Homo sapiens: one gene and its partners. Changing the gene in region 4 together with the main gene of any one other region gives a genetic interaction. Each region holds a gene or a part of one and is shown on either strand. Other genes may lie near its edges.

Region 1 (3,500 bases), on a different chromosome or scaffold from region 4:
AAAAAAATTATTTTCTGGCTAAAAAGGGCTATTTCAAAAGCAATTTCTCAGAATCAAATTTGAAAGATAATCATAAACTCTTAGAAGAGTAAATCTGCCTTTTCTACCATTTCCTTCTTCCTCAAATACCTGATGAATGAATCCCATTTAAAACGTTAAAAAGAACACACTCCTGCCTCTAGTGAGCTTACAAAATACTCACAGTAAAACTAATCCTAAGCCTGTTTAAGCCTTTAAAAGAAAAGGGTAATCTAGATAGCGAAACATCATGTTTTAAAAACTGTTAATGTCCTTTATATGTAACCCAAATATTTTTCTCTTACCTTTCCTGTGGTCTGTCCATAAAGCCCAAATATCTCACGGAGTTTTTCTTCACTGATTGCATCTGTTCTGTCAATTTTGTTACCCAAGATAAGGATTGGCACATTGGATATTGTTTCATCAGTCATTAAAGCCTAAAGATTGAAAAAAAAGAAAAAAAGAAAAAAAAGAATTAAGTGAGGAATCTACAAAAGCCCACCAGATAATGAAAATTCTGACTTCCACTAATCTTTTAAGGCATTAATGTAAAGTGAAAATCTGATCAACTTTATACCTGAGTGATTAAAGATTCACCTTGACATTACATAACACCCATGACATTAAGTAAAAATCTCCTAAGTGCCTCGAAACAGTTGCAACTTTATTCTATTTATTTACAAGGCAGCAGAACTGCCCCAATATTAACTTTTGAGCTAATCTGCTCAGCCACAAACTATCCTCAGGATGTCCCTCAGCAAAGTCCTATAAGAATGAATGCTCTGGCTACAGAGCCTCAAAGATGACTACAGGAATTCCCCAAGTATTCACCAAGTCCCATTGTGTGCGAAGAACTCTCTCAGGCATTGAGAGGAATAAAGTAGGAAGGGTAACTATCTCAGGCACTGAGGATACAAAAGGAAGCACATTCCTGTCCTCAAAAAAATCCTCACTCTATGTTCACATTATGTTTTTTTTCTTTTTTCTTAATCTCAGCTCACTGCAACCTGTGACTTCCAGGTTCAAGCGATTCTCCCACCTCAGCCTCCTGAGTAGCTGGGACTACAGGCATGTGCTACCACGCCTGGCTAATTTTTGTATTTTTTTAGTAGAGATGGAGTTTTACCATGTTGGCCAGGCTGGTCTCAAACTCCTGCCCCTCAAGTAATCTGCCAACCTCAGCATCCCAAAATGCTGGAATTACAGGCATGAGCCACCACGCCCAGCCACATTTATGTTAACAAAGCCAAGTAAGAACACAATATAGTGGATAAGTGTCACAATGAATGGGAACTGAATATTAACATTAAGACAAGTTCAGGGAAATAAAATGGCAATTTTGGGCTTGAGCAAAGTCTTAGAAAAGATCTGGAACCTAAACAGGGCTCTAAAGGAAGGGCAGGGTTTGGATAGGTGTAAAGGAGAAGTAAGAACATAAACAACGGCTTTGCATTAGGACAATAATTCAGGAAGCCACACAGTACTGCATGGCTGGATTCAAGCATTTAGATAGACATGCAGCGACAAAGTAAATGGATGAGAAGAGATGACTCACATTAGGGGCCAGTGTGAGAAGTGAGCTGCAATATATCCTAAAAGACCACAAATCCAGAAGTTAGTGAATAAAATCTTATTTTTCAGTATAATGAATTCACAAATAGTATCTATCTGTGGTGTTCATGTAAGAGATCATGATCTAGCTTAAGGTAGAGCATTCAATGAATACTGCAGGAGGCATTTTGAAGAAAGAATTGAAGAGACCAATGTCTAAATGATTAAAAAAAAAATTTAAAAAAGACAAATGAGTCAAAACTGCCACTGATTTCAAGCCTGGGAATCTAGTTGTCACCAATAGGAAAGCTAGCGGGGAAAGCAGAGTTAAAGAGATAAAGAGGAATGTACTTTGACCATCTGGAATTCCAGGAAATGTTACACAAAATTAGAATAAGAATGTCCTTCATTCATTAAGCAACAACAAAGTACCTAATGTGTCTAATGCTTTGCTAGGTGCAGGGGTTTTGCAAAGAAATAAGACACAGTCCCTATCATGTTAGTTCATAGTCTGATGAGAGAGAACTATAAAAAAATCAATAAAGACAACAGACATTGGTAAGGTGGGAGTCTAACACAGTCTCAGAGGTCAAGGGAGGCTTACCAGAAGCAGTCATATCTGAACTCTGAGGTCTCTTATAGAACATTTTAAAATTTGCCGACAAAGCGAGGGGTTGAGGAGAGGTACAGGTGAAAAAGCCAGGCAGTAGCTACTTGTGCATATTCAAGGATGGCTAAGTTGTTTGTTTGGAATATAGTTCAAGGTAGGCAGTAAAAAGAAACAGAGGGAGGATCATGAATGATCCTATGTGCTATGCAAAAGATTTATAGATTTTATCCTGAAAATGATAGAGAACTATCAAAGGATATTAAGTAGGGCAATTAAGTCTGAGAAAGTTCCTTCTAGCATTATGGTGCATATCAGGGTCATGGTAGGATTTATATTAATTCACAGATTTGTGGACTGCATGTCCAGGTAGGTGGTGGGTGGGAAAGACAAATAGTTCCATTCTAGGAAAACAGAATCAGTAGTAGGAGTTGTCGAGAGTAGGCAGGATTAGGTATGAGATTAGAGCTCAGGAGAGGTCTAGAGGAGAGAAATGCATTTGAGAGTCACTGACATGTAGGTGCCAAATGAAGGGAGTAGATGGGACCAGCCTAGGAGAAAGTACTCTGGAGAACACCAACATTTAAGGACTAACCAGAAGAACTAGTGCTTCTCAAAGAGACAGAAGTATCAGCCAGAGAGGTAGCTCCAAAATCAAGAGTGAAAAGAGGAGTTTAAACAAAGAGAATGGAGACCATGCATGGTGGCTCATGCCTGTAATCCCAGCACCTCATGAGGCCGAGGCAGAGGATCACCTGAAGCCAGGAGACTGAGACAAGCCTGGGCAACATAATGAGACCCTGTCTCTACAAAAACACTTTTTTAAAAAAAATTAGCTGGGTGTGGTGGTGTATGCCTGTAGTCCTAGCTACTTGGGAGGCTGAGGCAGGAATATCGCTTGAGCCCAGAAGTCTGGAGGTTACAGTGAGCCGTGATTGCACCATTGGACTCCAGCCTGGGCCACAGAGGAAGATTCTGTTTAAAAAAAAAAAAAAAAAGCAAGGTAAAGACTGCGTGGCAGGCAATTCTACATGAGGCTGGAGCTATAGATGTGAGAAACATACTTAGAAATAAATTCAAGACAGGTTCAAGTTGCCAGAAACAAGAATGCAAGGAGTTATAAATCAAAGAGAAAGAAGAGATATAGGGTAAAGGAGTAGGGATAACAAAGCCAATAGTATAGAAACCATCAAGCCATGAGAAAATGCAATGTTGACAAAGGAGAAAACTTGAAGTGAGTCCTTAATAGTATCAAAGGATGTATGCAACCAAAACTGAAGACTGAGAACAGACCATGAAGGTCTGGCAAGTCATTCAGTGGGAG
Region 2 (2,876 bases), on a different chromosome or scaffold from region 4:
GAGACAGGGTCTTGCTCTGTCACCTAGGCCGGAGTGCAGTGGCACAATCACAGCTCACTGCACCCTCGACCTCCCAAGCTCAAGCCATCCTCCCGCCTCCGCCTCCGGGATAGCTGGGACTACAGGCACATGCCACCACACCTGTCTTTTTTTTTTTGGATTTTTTGTATAGATGGAGTTTCACTATGTTGCCCAGGCTGGTCTCGAACTCCTGAGCTCAATCGGCCCACCTTGGCCTCAAAAAGTGCTGAGTTTACAGGTGTTAGCCATTGCAGCTGGCCGTAAACAGATATATTAAAATGACTATAAATATCTAAACAATGACAAACTAGAATTTACAGGCTTAACGATGAAAATACCTTATTTGAAAGGGAAGTATAGCTTAATATTAAACTGCAACGCAGGCAAACCCAACTGCTTTGGAATATGCAATTTAAATGTACTACAAAACCTGGTTTTGAAATTTGATTAATTTTTTTTTTTTTTTTTTGAGACAAAGTCTTGTTCTGTCATCCAGGCTGGAGTGCAATGGCGCGATCTCGGCTCACTGCAACCTCTGCCCGCTGGGTTCAAGCGATTCTCCTGTCTCAGCCTCCCAAGTGGCTAGGATTACAGGCACGGGCCCCCACGCCTGGCTAATTTTTGTATTTTTACTAGAGATGGGATTTTGCCATGTTGGCGAGGCTAGTCTCTAACTCCTGACCTCAGGTGATCCGCCCGCCTCGGCCTCCCAAAGTTCTGGGATTACAGGCGTGAGCCACTGCGCCTGGCCTGAAATTTGGTAAAATTTTGGTTTATGAATAAGATGACCTACTGTTACTACTAGAGATGTCAAAAGATGTTATTAAATATACTCATTTTCTTTTCCACAGTCATATTTAGAGGACGAAAGTTTTCATTTAAAAATATTTCACGGTAATAGTAGAGATTTTTTAAACTAGCATCATTTTTTTCTCCTGCAGATATCACCCACCCAGCACTTCTAATGGCACTGAATCTAAATGCTTACATGTAAGTTATCTCCTAATTAGCTATGATTTCTCATTAGAGGTGAGATTTAACATTTGCCAAAAGAAAAATAAATTCCAATTTTGAACGTTTATCTTTTGTCCTTTTCTTTGATAGAAAGGACACTGAAATCTAAGTTTCTGATTTAAAAAAATAGTAACAAAAAAAGTTATGGCCCCTGGATCACATGCTTCACACTGTCCCACATTGTTCCCTCCATCGCTCTGCCCTCTCTCACAGCTAATCTTCAGATACTCATTCTCATACTAAGATCCTCCTACAGCTTATCCTATTCAAATTCTTTATTTCTGAACCACATCCTCCATAGGCAGAGACCCCCGAATCCCACTTTTGGCAATTCTGATGGACAAGTTCTAATTACCAGGCCATATTCCTGTTAATACTTAACACCAAGAACACAGTATAAGCCAAGCAACTCACGATTCCCTACAAACTCTTGCCTATATGTTAGAGTCTTGGCTATTTGATCAAAGTTATTTAGTTGACAATAAATACAACCAGAATCCCTTGAAAGCAAACGTAAAACTAATTACTAATCTTTTATTTATTACAGGAAAACAAATGTCTTTTAAGTGATTCACATTTATATTTGAGAGTGGACAAAGTTTTCTGCCATAAAATTAATACTGATGGCTTATATATGAAGTAGTAAATGAATCTGACATTAATCAAATAATGGCTTCCTACTTGGTCACTGTAACACAATCTCCTCTTGGAACTTACCTGATCTGTCACATCATACACAACTATGATGCCATGGGCTCCTCTGTAATAACTGGAGGTGATTGTTCGAAATCTTTCCTGGCCTGCTGTGTCCCACTATTACAAAACAATCAAGAAATCCAAACAATTCCATTAAAATAAAGTTGGGGAAAAGTGTAGGAGGGAGGGGAAATAGTTTAGTTTTCATAACTGTGGAGATTATCAGGATGTGATATAGAAACATTAGTCCTCAACTCATACCACTAAATTGCACGGTAATAAGCACCTGAAAGTCCAGAAAAGAAGTAGTACCTACAATTGAGCTTACGATAATAATACTAAAATTACAAGCTGTTGAGAGCAGGAACTATGTCATACTTTTCACATTCCCTACCGCCTTTAACACTGTGTTTAGGAATGCCACTGGCCGAAAGCCCTTGAACACAGAACTCTTCCATGTAAGACAAACTCACTTGCTAGCACATTCTACCATGATTAAAAGCACTGGAGGGACCTAATTCAAATAACTACCAGTCAAGACAGAACTTTAATCATCCCAAGCAGGTGTCTTTTTTTTCCCCTCTCAAGCAGCGTCTCATTCTGTCATCCAGGCTGAGTACAGTGGCATGATCATGGCTCGCTGCAGCCTCAACCTCCCACCTCAAGCAATCCTTCCACCTGAGCCTCCTGAGTAGCTGGGACTACAGGCACATGCCACCACACCCGGCTAATTTTTTCTTTTTTGTAGAGACAGAGTCTCGCTACATTGCCCAGGCTGGTCTCAAATTCCTGGACTCAAGCAATTATCCTAACTCATTCTCCCAAAGTGCTGGCATTACTGGCATGAGCCACCATGCCTGGCTAGGTGTTGTCTTCATCCTAGAGAAAAAAATGTAAGGAAGATGACTCCAAATACTTTCATAAAACGTATTTTAAGAACAATTTACTGCACTTCAACCATTTAGGCTCAAACTCCCAAAACAAATGCTAACATTATTGCATTATAGTTCTGGGTTTTAAAAAACTGTTGGGACTGGGTACGGTGGCTCACGCCTGTAATCCCAGCACTTTGTGGGGCCGAGACGGGCGGATTACGAGCTCAGGAGTTCGAGACCAGCCTGACCAACATGGTGAAACCCTGTCTC
Region 3 (3,500 bases), on a different chromosome or scaffold from region 4:
TGGAGTCTGCAATTCAAGAGAGGATTAGAATGACCTAGATATTCTCCAAGGTTTCTCTGTATGTGAAGGTTATTACTCCATTAATTCAGGAGGATCTAAAGATTTTAGACCTAGAGACTAAATATGCCAAATCAGTCTGAGGTCTCACATTGCTACAGGATGGACGGCTCTTCATGCACTACAGATTTCAAATGGGGTCTTCTCATACTCATTCAGCTACTGCTCTAGGGTTACATGAAAGAAATCAAGTCTAATCCTTTTCCCTAACAAGCTCAAGGCTGGAACAGACAAAAAGGTAAGTAAACAACTGCTACAGAATGGGACAGCTGCTACATCAGAGAGTAAAAGTTGAGTGCTGTGAGAACACAGGAAAGAACAACTCAATCTGCTGGGGGAGTCTGACGAGGCTTTACAACGGTGATGTTTGGGTGAGGTCTTAAAGGATAAATAGGATCCTTTTTTTGGTTGTTTTTGAGACAGAGTGTCACTCCATCGCCCAGGCTGGAGTGTAATAGCATGGTATCAGCTCACTACAACCTCTGCCTCCCGAGTTCAAGCAATTCTCATCCCTCAGCCTCCCAAGTTATTGGGACTACAGGCGCACACCACCACACCTGACTAATAAGGCTGAATAGGATTCTAAGTGAAAGGACATTCCAGAAAGAAGGAACTACAAATGTGCAAGCCTGTGGTTTGCTTCACAACAAGCTGAATGTAGCCAGAGCACTGGGCGTGTGATGAACTGTGATGCTGGATATACAGGAAGGCTCCAGAGGGTAGGGAATCTTGATTGCTGAGCCCACTATTCTGGATTTCATCATGTGGTAGGGAAGCAAGAAAGACTGTAAATCCAAGGAGTTATCGCTGTCAGATCTGTACTTTAGAAAGATCATGCAGGTAGCTGTGTGAACAACTTGAAGGGTAGAGAAACTAGAGACAGGAACAAGAAGTAAGAGTATATTATAAAGGTTTAAGTAAAAGAAAATAAGCACCTGGAAAATAGGAGTACAAAAGGTAAAATTCAAAAGACTTTTCTGAGTTGGAAGAAATAGAACTTGGTCAAGTTGTAGCTAGCATGGGAGATAAAAGAGAAATCAAGAATGAAACCAAGGTTTTTTAGCTAACTTGGTAAGTAGTGATGCCATTAATTGACTCAGGAGAAGGGTTAGGAGGAAAATGTTCAGAATGCGGAGAATAATAAATAAAAGCAATAAATTTGGCTTTGGATTAGCTGCATGTGAACCACCTGTATTAATTCCCAAACACAGGCCAGGTGCAGTGGCTCACGCCTGTAATCCCAGCACACTGGGAGGCCAAGGCGGCCGGATCACTTGAGCTCAGGAATTTGAGACCAGCCTGGGCAACATGGTGAAACCCTGTCTCTACATAAAATACAAAACTTAGCTGGGCATGGTGGCATACTTCTGTAGTCCTAGCTACTTGGGAGGCTGAAGCAGGAGGATCACTTGAGCCCAGGAAGCAGAGGTTGCAGTAAGTTGAAATTGCACCATTGCACTCCAGCCAGGGTAACAGAGCAAGACCCTGTCTCAAAAACAAACAAACAAACAAAAAGCACAAGCACTATCTAAAAGACAATGATTTTCCAAGTATGATTCCCCAGACAGCAGCGCAGCATCACCAGGCAACTTGTCAGAAATGCAAATTCTCTAGTCTTACTCCCAAGCCACTAAAATCAGAGACTCTGTGGGTAAGGTCCAGCAATCACTGCTTTTACAAGCTTTCCGAGAGATTTAGCAGGGTCACAATTAAAAGCAGTAAGAAATAGAAACAAAAATCACAGGTGGAGGTGCTAAGTCTGAGGGTGGAATCGGGACCCCTCTTTCTCTGGGACAGACAAGAAGTTAATATAAAGGTACTAGGACATTTTTATGTGGTGAGGGGAGGAAGCTGAGGGAGTTTGTGCCTAGTGGCCTCTACTCTGTTTTTGAAACAGGATCTGCTACTGACAGCATCAGGCATGCAGTGGAAACCCTGAGGAGATCATTCATGTTCTCGGCTAAAATTTTCTCTCTTTGATTGAACACAGTCACTGAAAGCAATGTGTAATTTCTAATTCTCTGAGTTCACTACAAATGACAGCAAAGGAGTCACTCAACAAATATTGGCTGACTGGATGAAAAAAAAAAAACAAACAACTAGCTAGAGGAGTTGGCAGAATTCCATTTGACTTTCTTCTGTTGAAGCAGTTTTAGAATTCTAGAATGCTCTGGCAAAGAATTAACATTATTCATGGCATTTTATTAGTTCCTATGCTCACTAGCCATCCCATCATTTATTTATTTATTTATTTATTTTTTTTTGAGACAGAGTCTCACTCTGTCTCCCAAGCTGGAGTGCAGTGGCATGATCTCAGCTCACTGCAACCTCCGATACCTGGGTTCAAGCAATTCTCCTGCCTCAGTCTCCCAAGTAGCTGGGATAACAAATGCGTACCACCATGCCCGGCTAACTTTTTTAATATTTTTAGTAGAGAGGGGGTTTCACCATGTTGGTCAGGCTGGTCTCGAACTCCTGACCTCAGATGATCCTCCTGCCTCACCCTCCCAAAGTGCTAGGATTACAGGCGTGAGCCACTGCGCCCGGCCCATCGTTTAATTTTTAACATCATTATATTTCCGGATAATACCAAATGCTAACCTAATTTTTAAATATAAGTTAAATTTCTACAATGCAATGACTATGTATACAAGTCAACAGATTTCTACTACTGTGTTTTATCACTGAGCTAGATGCCATGCTAAATATATATTAAAAGAATGAGGGAAATAATGCTTGATGAGTGCCATTTCCAAGCCCTGCAGTGGGTACGTCAAATTTATTAGCTCATTTAATCTTCACCAGGAAATATGCCTATCTCCATTCTTCCACTCCAAGGAGCTTATTGTCTACATTTGAGAACTAAAACTAACACAACCCAAAGAAAATAATCAGAAGACAAACACAAAATGAAGAAACTACTGAAAGCTGTTCATTAAAAGCTGACTGAGAAGAAGAGAGGAAAACATCCTTTTCCTTAATATTAAACTGACTTGCTGATAGCTCAAAGCAGAAGTGAAAAAATGTATTTAGACGGTGACAGAACTATGTATCCAGTCACGTCACTGTTCAACCGCCCCTAGTTAAGTCCTTTTACCGCTCCGCCAGCTCCCAGTCCTCCTGAATCTGCTTCTGCCTGGCTTTGTGGTACTCTTCCCTCCAGCACTTGGAGCAGAAACCCTGCCAGGCAGGGTTGCCGTAGTAACCACATCCTTTCTTGCACAGGAGATCCGATTGATCCACATGAATTCCTCGGCGTTCAGACTTAAGGCTCATCTTCTTCCTGCTAACCACTGAACAAACAAGAAAGTGCTGTTGAAAATGAATTATCATTCTACTAAATAAAATCTTACCAATTATGAACAAAAAGTGAGTGATTCCATTATCTTCAAGCTGTTAAGAGAGGGATGGAGGGAATGAAGGAGGGAGGGAGAAAGAGGAGG
Region 4 (4,016 bases):
TCCCAAAGGAGGACACTGTCCATCACATCCACCATGTAGGGTCCGCGTGCCAAACCCACCAGGATCCAGAGAGGGACTCCCCACACCCCACCACACGTATGCGCTTCCTCCTGCATGAAGCCCCCCTCAAGCTGACTGGAAGTCGGTGTGTGTAAGGCATCCGTTATCACCGGCAGGCCTCAGCTGACTTTCATCCCCCATCAAGCTTTACATGGACTTCTAAGCCAGCACAGGGACCCTCAAAACTTGGGACGACTTCTCAGACTCAAAAGCAGAGCTTCCCCCAAGGATGGCTCCCTAACCCACCTTCCAGGTGTGGATTCCCAGGGCAGCAGCTGGACGGCCACAAGTGTCCCAGAACAGGGGGCTCCCAAGCTCCAAGTCTCCTGAGGCGTTGACCCCGCACCCATGCATGCTCCAGGCCCAGCCCTCCAAGCGGGGTCCGGCGGGATCTCCTGCCTCCTCCATGGCAGTGAGCAGTGAGGGCTCTGCATCAGGAAGAGGGAGCTCCTCAGGCTGCCGAGCCCCCCCAGTGGGTAAGGGACACCGCAGACCCATGGCGTCCTGAGAGCCGCCATCTGCCGCAGAGAGGGCCTGCTTCCATCCAAGCTCAGCACCCTCCTGCATGGCACCCACCGCACCTGCAGGGGACTTGCCAGGAGGGCGCTTCGCAGGGTCACAAGCATTTCACGCACACAACAACTCCACACAGCAAGATCAGAGCAGACCGTGGACTCCGCATAGAATGGAAGCCGGTCTCCCATGCGACGGGCGGCTGTGGCAACACTTCTTGCCCAAGGAGTCTGACTTAGAAAGCAGTGGACACTCCTGGCAGCCGGGGAGGAGAGCAGGGTCCATGCACTCCAGTTCTCCTCCACGCAGCCCGTGGCGTCCGGGTGGCCTGCGAGCCTATTTGTGCTGTGGGTGGGACCCCTCCAGACCCAGGCTGGGACCCCAGCTGCCCCACTTCCCAAGGGTGTCCATGCAGGGAGGGGACAGGAGCCCTCACCTCTCTCCAGCCTCCTCACAGCCACGGCTTGGGTGGAGCGGGCCCACGTTCACCCGCGGCTTGAATGGACCTAATCCAGGTACCCCATCTGGGAGCCCTTTCCCTGCCTCACCCCAAAGTCGATGGCTCCATCCCCCATGGCCGGTGGACTCCCTGCTCAGGCCCATCCCTGCAATGTCCCTCACACAGGCACACGGACCCTGCCAAGTCAAAGTGCCTGGAGAGGACTCACAGCACGGGCTAGGCAGGGGCTAAGTGCTTTCATCCTGGTTCTCCAACGGAAGGTGCTCTTTTGTTTTGTCTGGGGAGGGGGAGAGCCCACAAAAGGCATTTCCCATCCACAAGTGTGACCTGTAGCTGGTGCGAGAGGCGCCTGCCAAGGCAACCCTCTAGCAGCAACCGCTCCCGCACTAGCCAAGCCCAGCGCTGAGAACACAGGGCGCTGCTCAAAGCTAAGGGCACCGAGAAATTTACACCAGACCACTAGGAAACCCAACCCAGACTGTTTTGCCGGAAGAATGCAACTCTAAAACGACGTCGCTGCGGCAGGAGCCGCTCCTACCAAAGAATGGCGCCGAGCCCTGGGGCACAGCGAAATGAGGTTTCCCGGCCCCGCGGGGTCCGGAGCAGGTCAGGCTCCTATAGGAGGGGACGCCTCGGCGCAGCAAAGATCCGCGGGCCCGTCGCCGCCTCGGAAGCGCTGACTCTCCCTTCCGCAGCTCAAGCCCACCCCCGGCGGGGAGGCGCCGAGGCAACGTAAACACAGCAGGCCCCGGCTGACCCGAGCCCCCTGGGCCCTGGGTTTGCGAACCCCTCCCGACCTTACCACTTTGGGGGGGTGGGATGGGAGCGGGGAGCCCGGAGCCCCGAGTGGGATAGGTTGGGCGGTGGCAGAACCGGAACCCTCGCCTCGGCTCGCCACGTGCGCCGCCCGCCAAGTTTGGGCGCGCGCTGGGGGCGCCCCGGACCACCCCCCACGCCACAGTTTGGGGTCCCCCTGGCCAGGAAGCCGGGAGGCGGCGGCGACGGCGCCCTGGACTCCCCGCAGACTCCCTCAGGTTCTCATTCGGGGTCCCCCAGGCCAGGAAGCCCTACAGGCGGCAACGGGGACGCTCCAGACCCCCCCAAGTTCCCGTTCGGGGCCGCCACAACCAGGAAGCGGCGGCGGGGGCCCCTGAACCCCTCTGGCTCCCATTCGGGGTCCCTCAGGACGCGCAGTCGGGAAGCGGCGGCACGGGCGCCCCAGGACACCCCCCCAGGTTGCCGTTCGGGGTTCCCCCGACCAGGAAGTCTGGAGGCGGCGGCGGGGCCCCCCGGACCCCTCAGGCTCTCCTTCAGGATCCCCCAGGACGGGAAGCCGGGAAGCGGCGGCGGGGGCGCCAGGACCCCCCCAGACCCCGGGCACCCGTCCAGGGCCCCCGGCGCGAAGCCGCGGCGAGTCCGGGTCCCGAGTCCGCCCCCGGCCGGCGTGACCTTGACGGGGCGGCCCCGGGGGGCGGCGTCTGAGGCCGGGCGGCGGGGAGCGGCGGGCCGGGCTCGGGGCGGAGACGCAGGCCCGCGCCGCTCGTCCTCACCCGATCTCGTCGGCGCCCGAGTTGTTCATGGCGGCGGCGGCGGCGACGCTCGGCGCTCCCGGGCCTCCTCGCTCGCTCCCGCCTCCGGAAGGTCACCCGCTCCGTCGCCCTCCCCACAGCCGCGGCCCGGATCTGCGCAACGGCGGCGGCGGCGGCGGCGGCGGCGGCGGCGGCGGCGGCGGCTGCCTCCTCCCCTCGGCGCCAACGGTCACCGCGCGTCCCCGCGCCGCCGCGCCGCCGCCCCTGCGCACGCCCGGGCGCGCTCCCGCACGGGGTCTCCGGGGGCGGGTCCAGGGGTACTCCGTCTGTGCGTGCGTCCCTGAGGCGGATTTCGCGCCGCCGCAGTCGGGGCCGTCGCGCGTTTTCCTTTCTCCTCGGAGGCTCCTGGCGTTGCCGCGGGGCACGCTGGGAAATGGAGTCCCTGCGCTGGCCCCGCCCCTGCAAGGGGAGGATGCGCGCGGGCCGAGCCACGTGCGTGCGTGCGCGCGCGTGCGGGCTTGCGTGCGCGTGCGCGCTTGCGAGACCGGCGCTCCGGGCTAGGCACTGTGGGCGCAGGCGCGGCTGCCGCTTCCTCTTTAACTCTTCACTCGGAAGCGGTGGAGCCGCGTGGGGCGCTGCGGGGAGTGGGAGTGTACCCGCCCGCACCCCAGGCGGGCGGACGGAGCGGGAACGGCACGTGAGCGTCCCGCGCGAGGCTCCTTCCCCTGTCCGCATTTCACAGAAGAGGATCCCGAGGGTCCGAGAGGCTGAGTCACTTGGCCAAGGTCACCCAGTTCGGGGCTGAACTGGAATCAAATCAAAACAATTAACTAAATTCAATGACTATGAAAAGATATTATTGACCCCCCCCCCAAGTGCTATTACTATTAATAGCCAAATACTGTTTTAGTTGCATCTGTTAATTGCATACATCAGTGGTTCTTCTTCTGGGTGACTTTGCCCCCTAGGGGATAACTTGGCAATGTCTGAAAACACGGTTTTGGTTGTCACAACTTGAGTGCGGGGTGCTGCTGGCATCGAGTGGGTCCAGACCAGACATGCCGCTCAGCACCCTGCAGTGCACACGACGACCCCCCAAAAAGAATGATACCCGTCCTCCAATGTCAGCAGAAGGAGGTGGAAAAACCGGTCTAGGCTGACGGTAGTAAACAGGTGACCCGCAGGGTTTTGTAAAACCGGGTACGTGCTGCCTACTGCTTTTCTCCTTAATCTCACAGCACATTGACAGCCTGATCGTTTGGTTTATTCATCATCACAGAATTAAATAAATACAAGGAACAAGGCCGGGTGAGGTGGCGCACGCCTATAATCCCAACACTTTGGGAGGCCGAGGATCAATTTAGGTCAGGAGATCGAGACCAGCCTAGCCAACATATATAGTGAAACCCCGTCTCTACTAAAAATACAAAAGAAAATTAGCCGGGCGTGGTGGT

The links.
Region 1: changes in DAZAP1 (region 4) and SAR1A together harm fitness less than expected from each alone (positive genetic interaction), as found in Homo sapiens cells (one large-scale study listed by BioGRID).
Region 2: changes in DAZAP1 (region 4) and RAB1A together harm fitness more than expected from each alone (negative genetic interaction), as found in Homo sapiens cells (one large-scale study listed by BioGRID).
Region 3: changes in DAZAP1 (region 4) and RABGEF1 together harm fitness more than expected from each alone (negative genetic interaction), as found in Homo sapiens cells (one large-scale study listed by BioGRID).

Annotation. Positions count from the first base shown.
Region 1 is NC_000010.11:70,153,515-70,157,014, forward strand, and holds part of SAR1A (small COPII coat GTPase SAR1A), read right to left. Parts: intron 456-3,500; coding exon 324-455; intron 1-323. UniProt on the Homo sapiens protein: Small GTPase that cycles between an active GTP-bound and an inactive GDP-bound state and mainly functions in vesicle-mediated endoplasmic reticulum (ER) to Golgi transport.
Region 2 is NC_000002.12:65,089,231-65,092,106, forward strand, and holds part of RAB1A (ras-related protein Rab-1A), read right to left. Parts: intron 1,849-2,876; coding exon 1,753-1,848; intron 1-1,752. UniProt on the Homo sapiens protein: The small GTPases Rab are key regulators of intracellular membrane trafficking, from the formation of transport vesicles to their fusion with membranes.
Region 3 is NC_000007.14:66,771,733-66,775,232, reverse strand, and holds part of RABGEF1 (rab5 GDP/GTP exchange factor), read right to left. Parts: intron 3,351-3,500; coding exon of another isoform or gene 3,334-3,350; coding exon 3,155-3,333; intron 1,543-3,154; coding exon of another isoform or gene 1,406-1,542; intron 7-1,405; coding exon 1-6. UniProt on the Homo sapiens protein: Rab effector protein acting as linker between gamma-adaptin, RAB4A or RAB5A. Involved in endocytic membrane fusion and membrane trafficking of recycling endosomes. Stimulates nucleotide exchange on RAB5A. Can act as a ubiquitin ligase.
Region 4 is NC_000019.10:1,406,370-1,410,385, reverse strand, and holds the start of DAZAP1 (DAZ-associated protein 1), read right to left. Parts: upstream 2,801-4,016; 5' UTR 2,613-2,800; coding exon 2,584-2,612; intron 2,502-2,583; exon of another isoform or gene 765-2,501; coding exon of another isoform or gene 307-764; intron 1-306. UniProt on the Homo sapiens protein: RNA-binding protein, which may be required during spermatogenesis.